2 separate regions of the Homo sapiens genome follow, and region 2 is linked to region 1. The links come from fine-mapping of genetic effects on gene expression. Tissue or cell type: whole blood. Region 1 holds a variant in brackets; the other region holds the start of a gene. All regions are shown on one strand. Distances are from middle to middle.

Region 1 (10,545 bases):
TTGGTGGAAACAAGCCACTGAAGTTAAAATATAGTTCCCAGGATTAACCATGAAAAATAAAATGCACTTGTTTTACATGTACTGCTGCTATACAGATAAAGCAGAAAGTTTTTTTTTTTCTTAAAATGTTTCAATGCACATAACAACAGAATTAAAGAGATAAAGGCAAAGAGAGAGAGAGCCTTAGAGTAATGAGACATTACCTTTGGAGCGCACGGTGTAACACTCTTTCTGTAAATTTTACACAAAAATGGCAAGAAATAAATTGTAATACACTTTTAAGACAAGACTGAATCTATGTTTTAATATCAATATAACTTTGAAATTAATTATTTTCAAGTTTTATGCAGAGCAAGAAAGCTTTTTTAAATGGAGGGCTCTAAATTTTCTTTCATATGGGATATTTACGTAGAGATGAATTATGCTTAAGAAAAGCATCGTGGCTAAGTGGGAATCTATTTAGATCCTTAATATTGTAACATAGAGTGCCAATAATAGCTATTAACATATTACATTTCCTTTCACAAATCCCAGAAATTAGCTAAGACAACATTTTCTCAAAAGAGAATAGTGTATCTTGCATACATACATAAATATAAAAATCTGAATGCCCAGGACCAGTTACTACCAGTTGAAAGCAAAAATTTCATTAGAAAAAAGTGAGTTAAGATCATCCAAAATAAAATTTCAAGGAACTTTTAACTAATTCACATCAAATAATTAAAGAACCTTTCATGCTTCTACATTTGAAACCTTTGTTTGGTGACGTATCACAACAGACTACTTTCAGGAGTTAATGAGCAAATGTTCGGACCCTAGTTACTGTTCAGTGATATTAGATACACATTGAAGTTAAGTCACTGAACATAATAATAAAGCAGCATTAACTACAATTTTAGGGACCTTCTCAGAGAATAAAAAGGCAAGAGAGATGAAAGCGTAAGTGCAGTCAAATCTTAGCCACAATATCTTCTTTTCCTGTCTAATCTCTGATTTTCCCCATTATCAAGATTTTTTTTTGGAGAACACACACTGACCAATTTTTATCTATATTTAAACAAATAAATCTATTACTACTCAGATCAAAATACTATTATACCATGAACAAAATGCTTTATAAGAGTTTTGAATGTAATAAATCTTGAAATATTTAAAAATAAGCTTAAAATTATCATAAAGGCATTGACAACATGAATAAGTCAAAAAAGAACATAATGTTTGAAATAATGTGGAGTTTTCAATGAATGTTGCAAAAAAAAAAAATAAGTGACTGTAGGTGTAAAGTAGTACAGAAGAGGGAAATAAAGATAACTTCTGTCCACTTTAGCTTTTAACATGCAATGCTTTCCCTTCAACTCCTGAAACTATCACACTGTCAGGGAAGAGGCACCAAATTGTACAGAATGACAACACTTGTATAAGGGTAATGGAAACTAACCAAGCCACTTGACAATGCTCTACCCATGTGTTCCAAAAGTCACCAAAATAGAAGTGCTTTCTAAAATTCAGCACTAATGTTAAGATAATACACACCAAACATTACTAGATAAAAAATTTCTTCCACATTGCTAGCACGTAAGTCACATAAACATTAAGTTATTAAGCCTGAATGTTAGGGATGACACTTGATATTCAGAGAATATGGTTTATGGCTAAGTTTCACGAACATCTTTGCTCATGAAAAAATCTGAAATTAACATATGAAGGTATTACCCCAAAAAAAGGAAGGAAAAAGCTAGAGCTTCTCAGGTTATTAACACTTACTAGCATTTCTTCTTACATAAATTTATGAATACGTGGGTAGAAAAAGCATTTCTACCCCGAATCTAGTTTTATTACCCAAAACATCAACACAGCTTTACAAACCCCTTAAAACCAACTACTCCTCAACTCTCCTTGCTCCACTACTTTGTAATAATCAGCACTTCTCTCCCATTCAGGTACTTGCAAGTCAGATTCTTAAATGACATAAAACATATTCTAAAACTTATGCCCCGCCCCCCCATTGCCCTATTTATGACTGTTAAAATGTAGCAAACATGTTTTGTTTAAAGTTCAAAGTTTGACTCTTCTATATTATCTTGTTTTCTTACATTGTTATAATTATTAATGACCACTGACAGTGGCCAGTGACAGGAACTGTTCTTGCAGGGTCTGCAGATCCCTACTCTATGGCTGCGCAGACTCATGTTCTAACAGCAGCTGATGAAGAGACTTCTGTTGCTCTTGATTTAAGATGAGCCCAATACTTCTTTAAGACATTTTTCAGACTAATGAAAACTAGGCAATTATGACTATTTCCATTAGGCAAGACAATGTTTGCACATAAATCATTCCACACATTCAGGAACTTACAACTACCCTACAAAATACCTTCTTCCTTTTACATCCATATTTTTATACCAATGTTTAAGAAAAACGAACTGAAGGTACATAGGAAACTAAAATCAAGGTTTCCTGACAGCTATATTAGTGTCCTATCCCAGAAGTTACTACAAAGCTATAAACTATTTACTCAATCTTTTTCATGACTATTTTATACAACATCTTTGTCTTTTTGATTAATGTATATAAAGACAAAAAAATTACAGCCAGAATTAATAAGCTATCAGTAACAGCAAAAGGGGAAAGAATGTTTCCCCAAATGTCATTTTGTTTTCCAGCAAAATGTTTGATGCTTCTAATCCTTAACTAAAATAAATTCAGAGCAGAGTGGTTAATAAAATTTTGAGCTTAAATAAGCTTAAATTTATAGTAAAGGCATTAATAATATGAATAAGTATGCAGCATTCTTTTTCTAGCTATCAGTTTCTTCCAGATTGTAAATAAAATTTCTATAACCTGGACTTTACATGACTTTTCAAGAATTTAGCATAATCTACAGAATGAAAAGGTTGGACTAGATAATCTCTAAATCCCTTTCCACTCTATGACTTTATAATTCCAGCTTTTATTGTGGTTTCTTCCTATTCTTTAACCTAAAAAATAAGAATACAAAGGACAAAATAAATACCAAATTAACTTGGTAACTTTAGTCCCAAATCTTTGAATTTCTTCAAAAATGTTCAAAATAAAACCACTGTTTCTTTAGTGATTCATGGGTATAGTGCCATATATCACTTCTTCCACATTTCTTGAGCAGTACTATTCCAAAAAGAATCAAGTTTTCTTCTATATAGACCCCCGAGAGCAAAATCATTATGACAAATACAGTACTAGAAATAAAGTTACTGTAAAAATTACAAATAGATTTATAGAAGAAAATCTGATTTTCATCATGTATATAATTGTTCCAGCCAAAGAAAGCAATATATGCAAAATTATGTTGAATAAAAATGACATATGCCTAAGGAAGGGGGAGTTTTTAGATGTGTAAGTAATGAAGACAGTAGTTAATGCACAAAACATAAGAATCCTTGAGGGATGTCTTGCAAATACCCATACTAACAGCACCAAATCTACTCCTTAGGAATTGCAAAGTAACAGATTTGTAACAAAAACTACAAAAACAATTTTGCAAGGATGTATTAAAAATCCTTATTGAGCCTATAAAGCAGGAACTATAAAGACAGTTCTTTTTATTTTACCACCATTCTTACACTATCCTTTCTTTTTCAGATTCCAGAACTGCCACTCAAAGTGCCCTATGAGGAGCTGTGGTAACAAGGTAAAAGGCAGGAGCCATCCTTTGGAAGCCATCAGCAAGCTCTGTGACCATCAGAGCTATTATCTGTGATCATATACATAACCTGAAGATAGCATATCATACTTTTTTTTAATACTTTCAACTCCAAAAGGCTTTGGGCTTGTAAAAACATAGTTTCAAAGATTTTTATTTTATCAGCCACCATCTCCATTTTTACCTATCCTTCCCATAAATGCAAGGATATGTTTTAGTTCTGAAACATGAAAGTTAATTTGATTTTATCCTGCAACTCTTGAGAACTGATCTTTCTAGCCAGCATAAAGAAAGTATACTGACACAAAAATCTTCAGAAAAAATATAGGAGGATTAAATACTCAATTACTTCCAGGATTGCTTACTCCTTTCCAAAGGGACTGCAAACCCCTTTCCAGAAGGAAATTTCAAACTAAAAAATTTTCTTTCAATCAGAAGTTCAGTGATTTTACTGCCATCTAAAGTAAATTAACTTTGAAAATAAGTATAAAAATTATAATTGTAATTTATTGATTCAAAATTTTGTATTTGGCATTCCTTCTCAAAAATTGTAGTCCAATATAAAATTAGGCCATGTGGAAAACAGTAAAGGCCTTTACTAGATATTCCTAGAAAACACTGAAGCAAGTACTAAATAAAATAAAAATAAGATGTTTTTGAAGGGAGAATCTCGTATACTGAATTTTAATTAGTTTATGTTTAACGATAGCATTTTTAATGAGTTTTAACTCTAACATTTTATGAACAAGCTAATGTATGTAACAATATCAAGAAGCTGCTGCTACTTGATAAATCAAATTTTAATTGTACTGATATAAAAAAGGAAATCTAAAAGAAACTTTAGAGCCCTCAAATGGTAGCTTCTTGACCAATGAATCATTACGTTTTTCATGTTCACAGTTCAGATAAGCTTAAAAATGGAAATGGGAAACCTCAACCAAAGGATAAACAATTTTTACATTAAGTTACTATTAAAAAGGCTTTCTGAAAATATTTCTTTCTACTCTGTATTGGCTCTTAAGAAGGTTAAGAATAGAAAATCACTCTGTTAAAGAAGAGTAATAACAAATAACCTATGGGATCAAAACAAGAGAACAACTGTTGTAGGTCTTTTACCTGTATAATTCTAAGCATAATCTTTTATCAGCTTTCCATTTTTAGGACATTCTTAGGAACAGAATGCCCCTTATCTGAACTTTATCAGATCATGTAGAAATATATTTTTCAGACAAATTTAACATTTGAGTTTTGTATGTCAGTAATATACTCCTTTAAAGACAGGGAAGCGCCATTCATACTC[A/T]TTCATTCAGAAAGATGACAAAGAAAATGTTTTCAATAAATTATTAATGAAATATTTCTCCAACATACATAGGACAACTGAGATTCACTTCCAATCAAAAGCAATAACCCTCATGCTGGACAGTTATCTTTCACATTTTATATGATAGAATTATGATAAAAATAGGTTTTGAAGCAGCCTTAGATAAGAATATAACTAAAAGTATGCCAAAGGATTTATTTAGAATTTTCAGATAATAAAAAGGTAAGTTTTTGGTTGTGCAATGCACATCCATGTAAATATATTTGCTTTTTCAAAAGCAAATTTAGTATTCTTAAGTTTCCTGAGTGACAATCTCATAAATTTTGGTGGAAATGACAGCAACATTGGGTTATTTCAATTATGCATGGAGACCTCATAAAATGAGTTTTTTAAAATGCTCGCTCAACAGCAGGTCACCTATCTCTATACAACATCAGAAAATAATAGTACCTCTCTCAAAATTGCCTCAAAGAGCAACAGTAAGAGGAAAAAACAACCATGCAATGGTTTACTCAAACTGCTTTCCCTGTTGAGGGGGTACAGTAACTGAATACTCGTCTATGAACAATTTTTACATGTTCATCAATAGTTTATGTTCCAATCTAGTTTTGGTAAAGTCAGCACTCGAATTTGACAGGGGCTTAAATATGCCGTCATCTTTTCTGAAGATGACGGCATATTTTGAAAACAATGTATAAGTTTTAAATTTTTTAAGTCCCATTCTTCCAATTCAGGATATATGCTGAATGCTGAGGCAGTTGTTAGACCTTATAAGTTACTATGATATTAGAAATTAATAATAAAAATAAAGCTGACAGAATTTTAGCATTAAACTTGGTTTAACTATACCATCTTTCTTATGAACAGCGCTTCTCTGTTTAAGAAAAGCTCATCTCTGAATTATGCCTACTCACATGAAAAACTGGGAACCATTGGTATGTTTCCCTCGATTTGCCATTGATAAAAGGAACGCTCTGTCATGTTTGAGAATAAAGTTTTCATCTGTTTGAAGAAAACACAAATTTGTCAGTCTCCAATTATAAGTCACTTTAAAGTAATGTTCAAGTAATAAATAGAAAGCAAAAGATGAAATTCCTCTTCTGGTCAGTACAGATAACTTGACTGAACACTCAGAAAAGAAAAATTTAAGCTAATCAAATAACAAAAGCATAAAAAGGCCAAAAGATACTAATTAAAGCCTTGAGGAAAAGAACATATATTTAATACTTCACACAAACAGCCTTAGAACAGTCACTTTTAGTAGTAACATACTTTGGCTAAATGATATTTAAATTATTAACTTTCAGGGAAAACTAATAAAATTTTAGAAAAATCTCTAGCTTACTTCCTCCAAATTTCCAATTAGCTTGCCTAATGTGCTATACATGGAAGAAGTTCAATAATCTTTTTAGGTGTTTAATTTTTATACGGTAAATTTATTATTCAACTTAATTGAAGCTAGACTGTAAGACAAAAAAATTATGTTATATTAAGTTACAGGAACATATCTAAATTAAGTATGTGTATACTCAATTGTATCACAAAATTATCTAAGGAAGAAAGCCCTGTGAAACAAAAATTTAAATAGCAAAATACAATTTTAAGGTACAAAAGTATCTGCCACAAGGAACAACCACAAAGTGGCCTACAGCATTAGTTTTAAATTGCTACATAACAGAACCAGCTAAATAGCTGTTTCCTACTAGTTCAAAGGAAAAAAAAATCTGTGATAAAGATCACTTAGAGTTATTTTAATTCCAGCAGGAATATCCTTGAAAACTAACTTATATGTCCTTTTAACATTCATACAAACAAATCTTCTTCAGAACAAACAGAAACACAGAAAACTTTAAAAAGTGATTACCTTGGGAACAGGCTTCTGAAAAAGAGTAGTAATCCATTTTCCCCCAAAGGAAATATAAAAGACTATTATAACACTGAAGCTATTATAGCGTTAAAACCTAGTAATATTAGATTTCATTACAAATCTCTGCAACTGACTTTTCTAAGGCTTTTTGGGGCAAGTGCAATAGTTAGATTTATGCAGATGCTACTATTATGAGAATAAACACAGTCATAGTTCTAATATACAAAAGAAAACATACAAACCTTTGAAAAACGAAATTTCAACTTTTATTCAAAGAAATTGCTTGGTTTAGGGGAAAAAAAACCCCACAACTAGACTCTTTTCTCTGATGTGAAATTAATAACCCATTGGGAAATGAAAAAAGATACAGAAGCATGTATGAAATAATACACAGAATTTTCCAAGTCTTCAAGCAATATAGAAATCCAGCCACAACCTGACCCAGACTGTCCATAAATTTATTAGGAAGGGTGCAAGGGAACAGAATTGGAGTTTGTGTTACTGAGCTTCGTTCTCTTACCTTTTCATTTTGCAAAAGACCACATTCTCTATAAACAAAAGAATATGTTGACAGTTTTAGGCAGGAAGATAGGAGTTTTCATGTATATAGTTGCCTAACCTCCATGCTGAAAGTCATGTTTAACCATAAAGTTAGCCTTAATTAATCTTGTCAATTAAAAATTATATATTACAATATAATTTATCCCCAAATTCATGCAAATAAAGTATTTTCATGCAGCATTAGTTTCATGCAAAAAGTGAACTATAAGTAAACCTCTTCTCATTAAAAGTATATGATCAAACTTGCTTTAATATCAGAACTGAAACAAAAGACCGTAAAATATTAAGCCTTACCTTTAAAATATCCACCATAAATTGATTCTCCACCTTTTCCATTACCTGCAAATAATCACCTACTTTAAGCCATAATGAACATTAAAAATATACTAACACAGAAATCATTTTTGATAGCTTCAATTCGCTGAAGGAAACCTTGGAATGTTATAACTGCTGCAATAATCAAAATTCTCAGAGTCCTCAATTAACTTCATCTGTAAAATATATGTCAAGTCCCATTACAAGAAATACCATCAAAAAAGTCATCTTCACAACCTACTTATTTCAAACAGTAATAACACCAAAAACATTCCAGAACAAAAGCAATCAGACAGTACTTTGGCATTCATTGTAAAGGAATTCACTAAGTAACTATAATATTAATAAAATAAACTGCATAAAAACAAAATAAAATGTCTTACGTGGTACTTTGCTTTTTCATACATTCTGGACCTATAATATTCACTCATCCAACAAGTATTCACTGACCACATTTTATATCATACTGTAACTGACACAATATTTAGAACTAAAAGTAATAATGAAATACTTTAAAAACTGATAGATGGAGTTATTAGGAACACAACTTTTAGCTCTACCTTCACTGAAGTCCCCACCCTGAATCATAAAGTTTTTAACCACACGATGGAACGTAGAACCTTTATAACATAACTTCTTCCCAGTTGTTTTCCCAAGGCCTTTCTCTCCTGGAAAAAAAAAAAAAAAAAAGAAATGAAGTTTAATTATTTATACATCCTTCCATGGAAAGAACAAACCAATTAATCCTGTGTCAAATCTTTCCTGTGTGCTAGGCACTGGAAGAGATATAAGAAATAGATGACATGATAATTTAACATACACACATGCACGCAAACCAAAATAAATAATCCAAAGCAGCATGTAAATGTAAAATTGTGTGGTACAGACTCTACATGCTATAGGACATAATACTAGACACACTTATCACTCTAGTCAAAGAATGAGGTCAGGCGCAATGGCACACGCCTGTAATCCCAACATTTTGGGAGGCCGAGGCAGATCACTTGAGGTCAGGAGTTTGAAATCAGCTTGGCCAACAGGGTGAAATTCTGCCTCTAAAAAAAAAAATACAAAAATTAGCCAGGTGTGGTGGCACAGGCCTGTAGTCCCAGCTACTCAGGAGGCTGAGGCAGGAGAATCACTTGAATCTGGGAGGTGGAGGTTGCAGTGAGCTGAGATCACACTACCGCACTCCAGCCTGTTTTTGAGACAAGAGTCAGACTCCGTCCCAAATAAATAAATAACAAAATCAAGGAGTTAGTGCAAAAATTGCATATGTGTATCCAAGTAAGAATTTAAAATTTCAGTGTGTTCTAATTTTTTTTTTTTTTTTTTTGAGACAAAGTCTGGCTCTTGTCCCCCAGGCTGGAGTGCAATGGCGCAATCTTGGCTCATTGCAAGCTCCGCCTCCCGGGTTCAAGTGATTCTCTTGCCTCAGCCTCCTGAGTAGCTGGGATTACAGGCGCCTGCCACTACGCCCGGCTAATTTTTGTATTTTTAGTAGAGACGGGGTTTCACCATGTTGGCGAGGCTAGTCTTGAACTCCTGACCTCAGGTGATCCACCTGCCTCGGCCTCCCAAAGTGCTGGGATTACAGGCTTGAGCCACCGCACCCGGCCAGTTTGTTCTAATTTTAAAGTAACATTATAGATGTTTCCCTCCCCATTTTTTCTATTTATTTAAAATTTATTGTAAAATTTGGAATACTAAATTTTTTCAAAGTAGTGAAATTCATAAAATTCTACCAAATCAGTTTTGAATGTGTGCTATTATTTTATAAATTAAAATGTATAGAGAAGATTCCATTATATAACGTAGATTCTTACTCTCTTTTTCATTTTTGAGATCATTCCTTTCTAATCTCTTCCCCTTAAGAAATGCTTCCCTGATTTCATATAAAAGTCAGTATAAGTAACTCTTTTTTTTTTTTAATTCACAAAACTAATTTCACGAGTCCATTATTCTTCCAGGAAAATATCTATTCTGTTCAGCAAGGTAAAACTGTAAGCCACAGCTTCTCATTGGAAATAATAATTCACTTACCTGAGCACAAGCAAAGGAAGTTTTTGCATGTTTTTGGACATATGTCTGAGAAGAGCTGAAACATAATGCGACCAACTGAAATAAAATACATAGGAAAAAAATAGTAAGCAAGTTAAATATATCACATTTAAATGGGAGAAAGAAACAGGGCTAACAAATTAGAAAGTCTATTTTTGTAATTCATTTTAATTTTTTAAAAGATGTAATGGGAAAGCATTTAACTGGGTGATACCTATGAACAAGAACACCATTTTATTTGTTATTGTTAAAATTTACATGCAGCCAAATTGGTTCCAGCCCCAAAATTATAGGATTTTAAGTGTGTTTTAAAGGAACTTTGTATTATTAGATTCCTCGTAGTATAGTTCCCTATCTGAACTATAAATCTTCTTTAAAAATACTCTCAATAGTTGTTTGATTTATGCTTGGGCCCTTCCAGTGATGAGAGTACATCAAAAGACAGTAATTCTGGCCAGTATTGTTAAGAAACATCTCTGTCTCTTTATTTTCAGCTTTCTTCCTTTAAGCAAGAACTGTTAAGAGCCACCTTCCTGAATTGCACCAATCACACTTAAAATTCACATTTTAAGCTGGGCATGGTGGCTCACACCTATAATCCCAGCACTTTGGGAGGCTGAGGCAGGGAGGGTTGCCTGAGGTCAGGAGTTTGAGACCAGCCTGGGCAACACAGAACGACCCCTGTCTCTACAAAAAATTTTAAAAATTAGCGGGGGATGGTGGCACATGCCTGTAGTTATT
Region 2 (10,545 bases), 22 kb after region 1:
CAGTCTGTTTTTATGAATCTTAAGCAGTAAAGCAAATCTAAACATAACTAATTATATTAAATGTATACAGTTAAACATACTGACTAAAAGACATTGTCAGAGTGGGACAAGACCCATCTATTTGCTATCCAGAAGAAATCCACTTTAAATATTATACAGAAAGGTTAAAAGTAAAAGGATTGAAAATGATATACCATGTAAACACTAATAAAACGGAAGTAACTATATTCATATCTGAGGCAAAGGAAACTTCAGAGCCAGGAAAGTTACTAGGAATATAAGGTGTCATTACATAATAATAAAAGAGTTCACTAAGAAGACAACAATCCTAAATATGTATGTACCCACCTAAGAGCCTCAAAATGAATGATGCAAAAACTAAGAGAACTTAAAAGAGAAATACGGCCGGGCATGATGGCTCATGCCTGTAATCCCAGCACTTCGAGAGGCCGAGGCAGGTGGATTGCTTGGGCCCAGGAGTTCAAGACCAGCCTGGGCATCATGAAGAAACCCTGTCTCTACTAAAAATACAAAAAATTAGCCAGGCATGGTAGCTCACACCTGTAGTCCCAGCTACTGGGGAGGCAGAGGCACGAGAATCACTTGAACCAGGAAGGCAGAGGGTGTGGTGAGCCAAGATCATGCCACTGCACTCCAGCATTCCAGCCTGGGCGACAGAGCAAGACTCAGTCTCAAAAAAAAAAAAAAAAAAAAAAAAAAAAAAAAAAAAAAAGGAGAGAAATAGATAAATCCACAATTACAGTTGTTATAGTTGCAGACTTCAATACTCTTCTCCTGGTAATCAATAAACAAGTAGAAAATCAGCAAAGATATAAAAGAATTGACCAACACTAATAGCCAACTGGATTTGACATTTATAGAACACACTACACAAAAATGTACATTCAAGTGCAGAATGTACATTCAAGTGCACAAAGAACGGAAATCATGTGTGTTCTCTAGCCATAATGGAATTAAATTAAAAGTCATTTGAGACTGTCTCAAAAAAAAAAGGTATCAAATCAACAATCTATGCTTCAACATTAAGAAACTAGAAAAAGAACAAAATAAAAATTGAAGCAAGCATTAGAAAGAAAGAGAACAATGAAATTGAAAACAAAAATAGAAACAAAATTCAATCAGATCAAAATCTGGTTCTCTGAAAATGTATAATGAATAAACCTCTCGTCAGACTGACAAAGGAAAAAGACAAAAGGAAGAATTATCAATATCAGGAATGAAAAGAGACACCACTACAGACCCCACAGATATTAAAAGAGGCTGTGACAAACAACTCTAAGCACATAAACTTGACAACTTAGATAAAATGCACCAATTTCTTTAATAAAAACCACAGGCTAGGCACCGTGGCTCACACCTGTAATTCTAGCACTTTCGGAGGCCGAGGTGGGCGGATCACTTGAGGTCAGGAGTTCAGACCAGCCTGGCCAACATGATGAAACCCTGTCTCTAATAAAAATACAAAAAAATTAGCCAGGGGTGGTGGCACATGCCTGTAATCCCAGCTACTAGGGAGGCTGAGGCAGGAGAATCGCTTGAACCTGGGAGGCGGAGGTTGCACTGAGCCGAGATGGCACCACTGCACTCCAGCCTGGGTGAAAAAGTGAGACTTCGCCTCAAAAAAAAAAAAAAAAAAAAAGTTGTGTAAAATCCACTATTTAGTTAATATACTCAAAAAGTGCTAGTTATTTCACAAGACTGAACCATATGAAATTTCCAACTATCAAATGATTAAACCTAGAACAATGTAAGCATTGCATTTCCTTGTTTTATATGATTCGGCGTTCTCAAGAGTGCTAATCACATCTACACATCTATCACAATGAATTGCCTTGGATGTTGAGGAATGAGGTTCATTGAACATTTGTCAAACATATTCTGGAGATTTTTCACAACACAGGTTATGTGCAAATCTAGGATCTGAACATTTACTAGGAAAGGAGTACTTAACTACAGAAATTTTTATTTGTACTTTTTCTTAAGCTGTTTTTTTTTTTTTTTTTTTTTTTTTAGAAACAAGATCTTGCTCTGTTGACCAAGCTGGAGTGCAGTGGTGCAATCATAGCTCATGGCAGCCTTAAACTCCTGAGCTCAAGCCATCCTCCCACCTCACCCTTCCAAGTACAGGTGAGCACCACCATGCCTGGCTAATTAAAAAAAAATTGTTTTTTGTAGACAGGGTCTTGCTATATTGCCCAGGCTGGTCTCAAACTCCTGGGTTCAAGCAATCCTCCTGCCTGGGCCTCCCTAAGTACTGGGATTACTGGTATGAGCCACCATGCTTGGTCATACTTCTACTCTTCAGCAATCTACTATTTTTCTTTTCTTTTCTTTTTTTTTTTTTTTGAGACAGGGTCTCACTCCGTCACCCAGGCTGACATGCAGTGGTATAATCTCTACTCACTGCAACCTCTGCTTCCCAGGCTCAAGCAGTCCTTCAGTCTCAGCCTCCCAAATAGCTGGGACTACAGGCAAAAACTAAGAGAGCCACCATGCCCAGCTAATTTTTTTATTTTTTGTAGAGATGGGGTTTCGCCATGTAGGCCAGGCTGGTCTCGAACTCCTGACCTCAAAATGATACACCCGCGTCTGCCTCCCAAAGTGCTGGGATTACAGGCGTGAGCTATTTTTAATTCTTAATAGAAAATAACCCTGTTATCTAAAGCATGGATTCACTACAAAATAAAGATTAAGGTCCATCAAGGCTTTCTAGTAACACTTATTTAAAAAAAAAAAAAAAAAAGATCAATCAAGGCTAAAAACATTAAAAAGAGAGAGAAGGCAACCAAATTTCCAGGATTATCTCATCCCTTTGCTCGAAACCCTTTAATATCTTCCTACCTCACTGAGTCAGTCCTACAGGCCATTTCTTACTATTCTCTTTCCTCTTCTACTCCAGCCACACTGGGCACCCTGCTGTCCCTCAAACATGCAAGTACAGTCCTCCATTGTTTAATAACCAGGACGGATTCTGAGAAATGTGTAATTAGGCAATTTCGTCATTGTGTGAACATCATGGAATGTATTTAAACACACCTAGATGGTACGGCCTACTACACACCTAAGCTATATAGTCTATTTGCTCCTAGGCTACAAACCTGTACAGGATGTTACTCCACTGAATACCGTAGGCAACTTTAACACAATGAAGTATTTGTATATCTAAACACAGCTAAACATTAAAAAGTTACCAAAAAAAGGTATTATATATAAGACCATTGTTAAAGATAGAAATGTCATTTGGCGCCTGACTGTATACTACTCCTCACCTCAGGGCTGTGCTGTTTCCCTCTACCACGAATGCTCTTCTTAAATACGGCTCACTTCATCTCCTTCTGATACCTGCTTAAATCTCATCTTCTCAAAATGGCCTTGTCTGACCAACTTATTAAAATAGTATCCCAACTACAAGTCACTGTTATTTTTTTCCTAGTTGTCCGTCTTCCCCCCAATAGAATATAAACTATAAAAGGAAGAGGCCTTTGTTTTATGCGCTGCTCTATCTCCAGACCCTAGAACAGTAGCAGGCTCTCATAAGAATATGCAGAACAAGATGTTGCACAAAGACAACACATATATATATGTCTCCAATTAAAACTTTTGTCACGGATAACAAAAAAAGCTAAGAAAACAGTTTGAAACCCTGCACGCTCTGCTACTTAGAATGAAATAACTATGCTTTAGAAGGAAATGTTTCATTTAAAAAAAATACACTAACAAATGTCTGGATTCCCTAAAGACAAACATTAATGCTAAGTGCATGCATGCTGCAATTCTGCTGGTACAAAATGCTCTGGTTTATCACAAAAGATCTTCACTAAGCCATTTTCCCAGGAACCACGAAATTCTAGCTAAAGATTCTTAAGGAAAAATAGAGGCAAAATTAACATATTAGTGATATATCGTGATTAGGAAACACACAATATTTCCTACTAGTTGAAACTTCATAGCACCAAGCAAGATAACCGGAAATCGGATCGGGAGTGTCTGCCTCACGGAGACACTGGGAGAGAAAAAGTCCTCAAAGAACTGCACCTCCTTTTCTTGGCGCCAGGCTGGCTACGAGGACTCAGTCCGGAGATGCAGCGGGGTGTGTGGGGTTTGGCAGGAAGAGGCCCGGACTGCGAGTTAGGGGTGTGCCCAGGCCACCTTCCTCTCCCACTGATTTTCTCTCAAGAGAAAACGGAAAGTTGCCTGCGCCTCCTACCCGCTCCCAAAAAGGCCGGGGGAGGGTTGCTGAGGGTAGACCCCTCCCCTTCGCCAAGGCAGGCCTCGGCCCCAGCAGCGCTCCCCAGTTTCCAGCTCACCCGGCTCCCGGTTGATCTCGATGTCGAAGTGGCACTGCGGCCGGTCCTGCGCCCCCATCGCGACCGAGGTGGCGGCAAGAGCTGGGAGAGAGGGGGAGAAAAGCGGTCAGGGCAGGGGCGAGGGCGGGGGCGAGGGCAGGGGCGAGGGCGGGGCTGAGACGAAGTCCGCGCCACGGTGCCTCACGCCGGCCCGTCGCGACAGCGCAGGAGGCCAAGACGAGGCCCCCTCCCGCCCCGGGCCTCGCGGCTCCCACGCAGCGCGCACGCATGCGGGCGAGCTCTTCACCTGGCTGGCCTCCAGCCTGAGCGGGTCCCCGTGAGCAGAAGAGAAAGCACTGCCACTGCAGCCAAACCCCAACGCCGCTAACGGAACGCCGTCTCCTCCCCCAGGCCGGGCCTCCCAATGCCACGCTAAACCCCGCGAGAGTCGGGACAAATACCGCGAGAGTACAGTCTAGATGGGGGTGGTCAACCGAAGGTGGCGGCAGCGGGGGCGTACGCACGGGGGCGTACGCACGGGGGCGTGTCTGGGGAGCTCTCGAGGAGCCTCCAGCCAGCGCTCCTATACCTGCGCGTTCCCTGTTTGCCCCCCCCTTTGAAGTCAGTCGCCCAATCTGAAAGCCGTGGATGCGCCTGCGCCCTCCATCTCGTCAGGTGTGGCTGTGAGCGCCGCGCATTTTCCGATACCGCGAGACTTCTCTGTTTCCGAGCGCTGTGAAGGAACTGAGTGAATTGAGGCTTTGAGTTTTCGTTAGCCAAGACGTTGTGTTGCTCTGTGTTCTTTTTGGCCGGGAGTGGTTATGTCCGTGTCCTACTGTTAGGTCTTTTAGGCTGAAGAATGCGTTCCTTCCCGCTTTGGCACCAGCGTCACTGGCACCGTTTTTGTCCTGTGCTTACTGACCATTCTGCATCTTTTGTGAAGTTTCAGTTCCAGTCTTCTGCCCGTTTTTAAATCTGGTCCTTCGTGTTTAACAGTTCTGGATACAAATGTTTTGTTAGATATATGTATGCTCTGAATGAAAATCTTTTGTTACATAAATGATTGCGAAGTCTTTTTCCCAATCTGGGCCTGTCGTTTCATTGTTTTGACGTTTTTGGCAAAGAAGTTTTTAATTCTGATTAAGTCAATTGGTCAGTTTTATATTTTAATGGTTTGTGCTTTTCCTGTGCTAGGAAATCTCTGCCTACCTCAAGTTCTTGAAGATATTCTGTGTTCTCATATATGTTTTACATAGTCTTTAACGTGTAAGTCTATGATATGATCTAATATCATTAATTTTTGCTTATGTTGTCAAGTAAGTGTCAACATTTTCCTATTGGGATATACAGTCGTTCCATTACCGTTTGTTGAAAAGACTCTTTTTTTTTTTTTTGAGACGGAGTCTCGCTCTGTCGCCCAGGCTGGAGTGCAGTGGCGGGATCTCGGCTCACTGCAAGCTCCGCCTCCCGGGTTCACGCCATTCTCCTGCCTCAGCCTCCCAAGTAGCTGGGACTACAGGCGCCCGCCACTACGCCCGGCTAATTTTTTGTATTTTTAGTAGAGACGGGGTTTCACCGTTTTAGCCGGGATGGTCTCGATCTCCTGACCTCGTGATCCGCCCGCCTCGGCCTCCCAAAGTGCTGGGATTACAGGCGTGAGCCACCGCGCCCGGCCTGAAAAGACTCTTATACATTGAATTACCTTCGCCTTGTGACCATATATGTGTGGGTCTGTTTCTGGATTTTTGTTCCAATGATCTGTGTCTGAGTACCACACTATTTTATAAGTTTTTTTTTTAAACTATAAAATACACATTACATGGGCGGGCGTGGTGGCTCATGCCTGTAATCCCAGCACTTTGGGAGGCCGAGGCAGGCGGATCACGAGGTCAGGAGATCGAGACCATCCTGGCTAACACGGTGAAACCCTTTCTCTACTAAAAATACAAAAAATTAGCCGGGCGTGGTGGCGGTCGCCCGTAGTCCCAGCTACTCGGGAGGCTGAGGCAGAAGAATGGCGTGAACCTGGGAGGCAGAGCTTGCAGTGAGCCGAGATCGGTCCACTGCATTCCAGCCTGGGTGACAGAGCGAGACTCCGTCTCAAACAAAAAAAATCTATCTATAGATCTATAGATCTACAGATATCTAGATATCTATAGATCTATAGATATATATACACATTATGTGAAAGTTGCCATTTTAACCATTTTTAAGTGTACAGTTCGCTGGCATTAACTGTATTTCACACGGTTGTACAACCCTCAGTACCTCCCATCCGTCCACAGAACATTTTCCATCTTGCAAAACTGAAACTCTGTATTATTAAACAGTAACTCCCCATTTCCCTCTTTTCCCAAGTTCCTGGCAGCCACCCTTCTACTTTCTCTCTGTAAATTTGTCTACTCTAGTATTTGTCTACTCATATGTGAGTAAAATCATGTAATATTTGTTCTTGTAGGCTAGGTGCGGTGGCTCACACCTGTAATCCCTGCACTCTGGGAGGCTGAGGCGGGTGGATCACATGAGGTCAGGAGTTCGAGACCAGCCTGGCCAACATGATGAAACGCCGTCTCTACTAAAAATACAAAAAATTAGCAGGGCGTGGTGGCAGGCACCTGTAATCCCAGCTACTCAGGAGGCTGACGCAGGAGAATCACTTGAACCCGGGAGGCAGAGATTGCAGTGAGCCGAGATTGCGCCACTGCACTCCAGCCTGGGTGACAGTGCGAGACTCTGTCTCAAAAAAAAAAAAAAAAAAATTTGTTCTTTTGTAGCTGGGTGATTTCACTCAGCATGTCTTCCATTTCATCCATGTTGTAGCATGTCAGAATTTCCTTTTTTGAGGCTGAATAATATTCCATTGTATGTGTATATCATATTTTGTCTATCCATTCATATGTCAGTGGATATTTAGATTGCTTCTACCTTTTGGCTGTTGTAAATAGTACTGTTATGAATGTGGGTGTACAAATACCTCTTTGAAACCTGCTTTCAATTATTTTGGATATATGCCCAGAAATGGAATCACTGGATCATAAGCTAATTCCATTTAAGATTTTTCCAGGAATTACCATACTGTTTTCCATAGCTGCACTATTTTACATTTCCATCAGCAGTGCACAAAGTTTCCAATTTTTCCACATCATCACCAACACTTGTTATTTTTTGGTTTTCTTTATTGCCATCCTAATGGATGTGAAGTGGCACACTGTTTTAATTAATGTAGTTTTATAGTAAATTTGGAAATTGGGCTCACTTAGATTGGGTGTCCAATCTTTTGGTTTACCTGGGCCACATTGGAAGAATAATTGTCTTCAGCCATACATAAAATACACTAACACTAACAATAGCCAATGAGCTTAAAATTGCAACAAAATCTCATATTTCTTGAAAGTTTATGAGTTTGTGTTGGGCTGCACCCAAAGTTGTCCTGGGCCACATGTGGCCCCTGGGTGGCGGGTTGGACAAGCTTGACTTAGATCATTTCTGACCTGTTTCTGCACCTATGTCACCTTTTTTTTTTTTTTTTTGAGACAAAGTCTCGCTCCGTCGCCCAGGTTGGAGTGCAGTGGCACGATCTTGGCTCACTGCAACCTCTGCCTCCTGAGATCAAGCGATTCCCCTGCCTCAGCCTCCAGTGTAGCTGAGACTACAGGCACACGCCACCACACCTGGCTAATTTTTTTGTATTTTTAGTAGAGACAGGGTTTCACCATGTTGGTCAGGCTGGTCTCGATCTCCTGACCTTGTGATCTGCCCGCGTTGGCCTCCCAAAGTGCTGGGATTACAGGCATGAGTCACTGCACCCAGCCGTCCATGTCACCTTTTTAAAGTACAGTCAAACCTTTGGTACTTCCACACCATCACAGAAGTGCTGTCCTTTGTTAGAGCTTGCCCATTCTACCTCCCTGAGAGTCCAGTGTGTCTATTAGAGGAGCAGTCTGTAGGCTGAATTGAGAAGCTAGCGGTCTTGGGTCTGATTTTGCTGACAATTACAGACTTGAACAGTATGAAATGTACATGCCTTTCTGGAGATGAAATAGTTTGATAAAGCTAACTTTCATACATGGATTCATGAAAGGAAAGGATGGAGACCATTACCCAGCTTTGTAATTACCGTGTTTAGGACATCAGGCTTCAATGTAAATAGGTTTTAGAGCTCAGGAATGAAATATTTAATTTGGGATATACTTAAACAACTTTAAACCTAGAATTCATTCTTATCTTGACATTCCAGCAATTCTCTTCTTTCTGCCACTGGTTATGTGACCTGAGACAAATCACTTTGATCTCTCTGAAGTTTACTTTCTTCATCTGTAAAATAAATGAGATAAAATATCTCCTTTCTAAGGTTCTGCCTCTCTCAAAGATTATTTTATTCTGTCTTGTGATTTGAAATTATATTTTAGATGATTCGAAGATAAAAGTATGCAATTTGGTCTGTGATTAAGGTGAAGAAACTCCTGGGACAAGGCAGGCCTAGGGCTAGTATCAACCAAAATGACTGACACCTCCTCCATCTCTTCCAAGAGTGGTAGAAAGTTGGTATCCAAAGAGTTTACAAACTCAGGCTTAATTTGTCCATGATTTATCATGAAGAAGAACCACTGGTAGTACGAATTTTCAGGTAATGATTCTGGGGTTCAGCCTTTTAGAGTGTGATTATGCCAGCAATTAGAACTTCAGGGGATAGGACTCTGGAAAACCATCAGGAATGCTAGTGGGGAAACAGACAAAATAATTTTCTAGAAAACAGAAATGATCGGCTGGGCGCGGTGGCTTACGCCTGTAATCCCAGCACTCTAGGAGGCTGAGGCAGGTGGATCACCTGAGGTCGTGAGTACGAGACCAGCCTGACCAACATGGAGAAACCCCGTCTCTACTAAAAATACCAAAATTAGCCAGGCATGGTGCCACATGCCTGTAATCCCAGCTACTTGGGAGGCTGAGGCAGGAGAATCACTTGAACCCAGGAGGTAGAGGTTGCAGTGAGCCAAAATTGCACCACTGCACTCCGACAGAGCGAGATTCCGTCTCAAAAAAAAACAAAAACAAAAACAAAACAAAACAAAACCAAAAAAAAGAAGAAAAAGAAAAAAGAAAGAGCCAGAGCCCTCAGCACATTAGTGCTAACATAGATTAACATGTGCCCAGTTCTCAACCACGTTATCTCAGTCTCACAACCTCAGGAGGCAGATGCTATTTTCATTATCCTCACTTTAGAGGTGAGGAAACAGAGCTTTCAGAGGTTAAGGGATAGAGCTGGGATTCAAAATGAGTTATCTCTTCACTATTTACATGTATTTTACAGTTGCCCTAGGTTGCAACCCTTGACTCCAAAAAAAGGAGCAGGGACCTGGGCTTCTAATTTTGGATATACTTACAAGAATCCCTTTGCCTCATCTTTCAGATAAATCTCCAAGAGTGAAAGTTTTTTATAGAATACAGCTAATAAAGTCAGAAAGAATGATAAATTAGAAAATCCTCATTATGTAATCCCTAATGAATTACCACATCAAAGCTGGGTGGATCATAATTTAAGTGAAAGGCTGGTTGGGAACTTAAAAGTCAGGTCACTCCTTATGTGATGCAAAAGCAAGTACTTATCACCTTCTAATATATTCCTGCTAAAAATATTAGAACATGAGTCTGCATGAGCCTCTAGATCTACTAGTTTACAGGAAAAGTGGATGATAGTGGCACATAATTAACAACACTACAGAGATACAACTGTATGTAGAACACGAGAGAATTCTAGGGTAAACACCTAGTTATTTCAACAAATAAAGAAAAAAAGGAACTATTAAGTATTCTTTAAGTGACTTAAAGGAACATCAACAAAATACAACATGTGAATCTTATTTGGATTCTGGTTCAGACAAATCAACAAAAAGACTATCTGATAACTGAAGAAAATTAAACATCATCTATTATCAGATGATATTAGATAATAATTAGAAATCACTATTCATTTTGTTGGCAATGATAATAGTATTGTTTTTATATACTTTATGGTTAAGTCCTCACAGTTATTCTTGAAAACCAAATGGAATACTTATTACATGAAAACTTCTATACCTCCACATCAGTATTTTATAGAAAAATAAGCTTTATTTCAAAGCAATCTGAAAACAGCAGTCAGGGGGACCACATTTACAAACTGATAGGAAGGAGCACACAGTTACATGTCCATTTAGCAAGGTATCAAGTCAGGAATCTCACCAATTCCTGCCCAACA

The links. PIP is the estimated chance that this variant, and not a neighbour inherited with it, causes the effect.
Region 2: NKTR starts here. The variant in region 1 is fine-mapped to the expression of NKTR in whole blood (INTERVAL, PIP 0.97).

What each region holds. Positions count from the first base shown.
Region 1 is chr3:42,616,886-42,627,430 of GRCh38, reverse strand. NKTR (natural killer cell triggering receptor) reads right to left here. Exons shown (of 17, transcript NM_005385.4): 3 at 9,787-9,861; 4 at 8,304-8,411; 5 at 7,723-7,767; 6 at 5,915-6,002. It overlaps ZBTB47-AS1 (ZBTB47 and NKTR antisense RNA 1), which reads left to right. Exons shown (of 3, transcript NR_125400.1): 2 at 3,619-3,667. Among named protein-coding and RNA genes, the nearest start is that of NKTR, 21 kb to the right of the region's middle. The variant A/T (reference allele first, on the strand shown) is at 4,980.
Region 2 is chr3:42,594,848-42,605,392 of GRCh38, reverse strand. NKTR (natural killer cell triggering receptor) reads right to left here and starts at 4,707. Exons shown (of 17, transcript NM_005385.4): 1 at 4,615-4,707; 2 at 4,329-4,409. The coding sequence starts at 4,386. It overlaps SS18L2 (SS18 like 2), which reads right to left. Exons shown (of 3, transcript NM_001370300.1): 3 at 8,459-10,545. It also overlaps a transcript of SEC22C not described here. RefSeq lists a silencer at 4,404-4,613.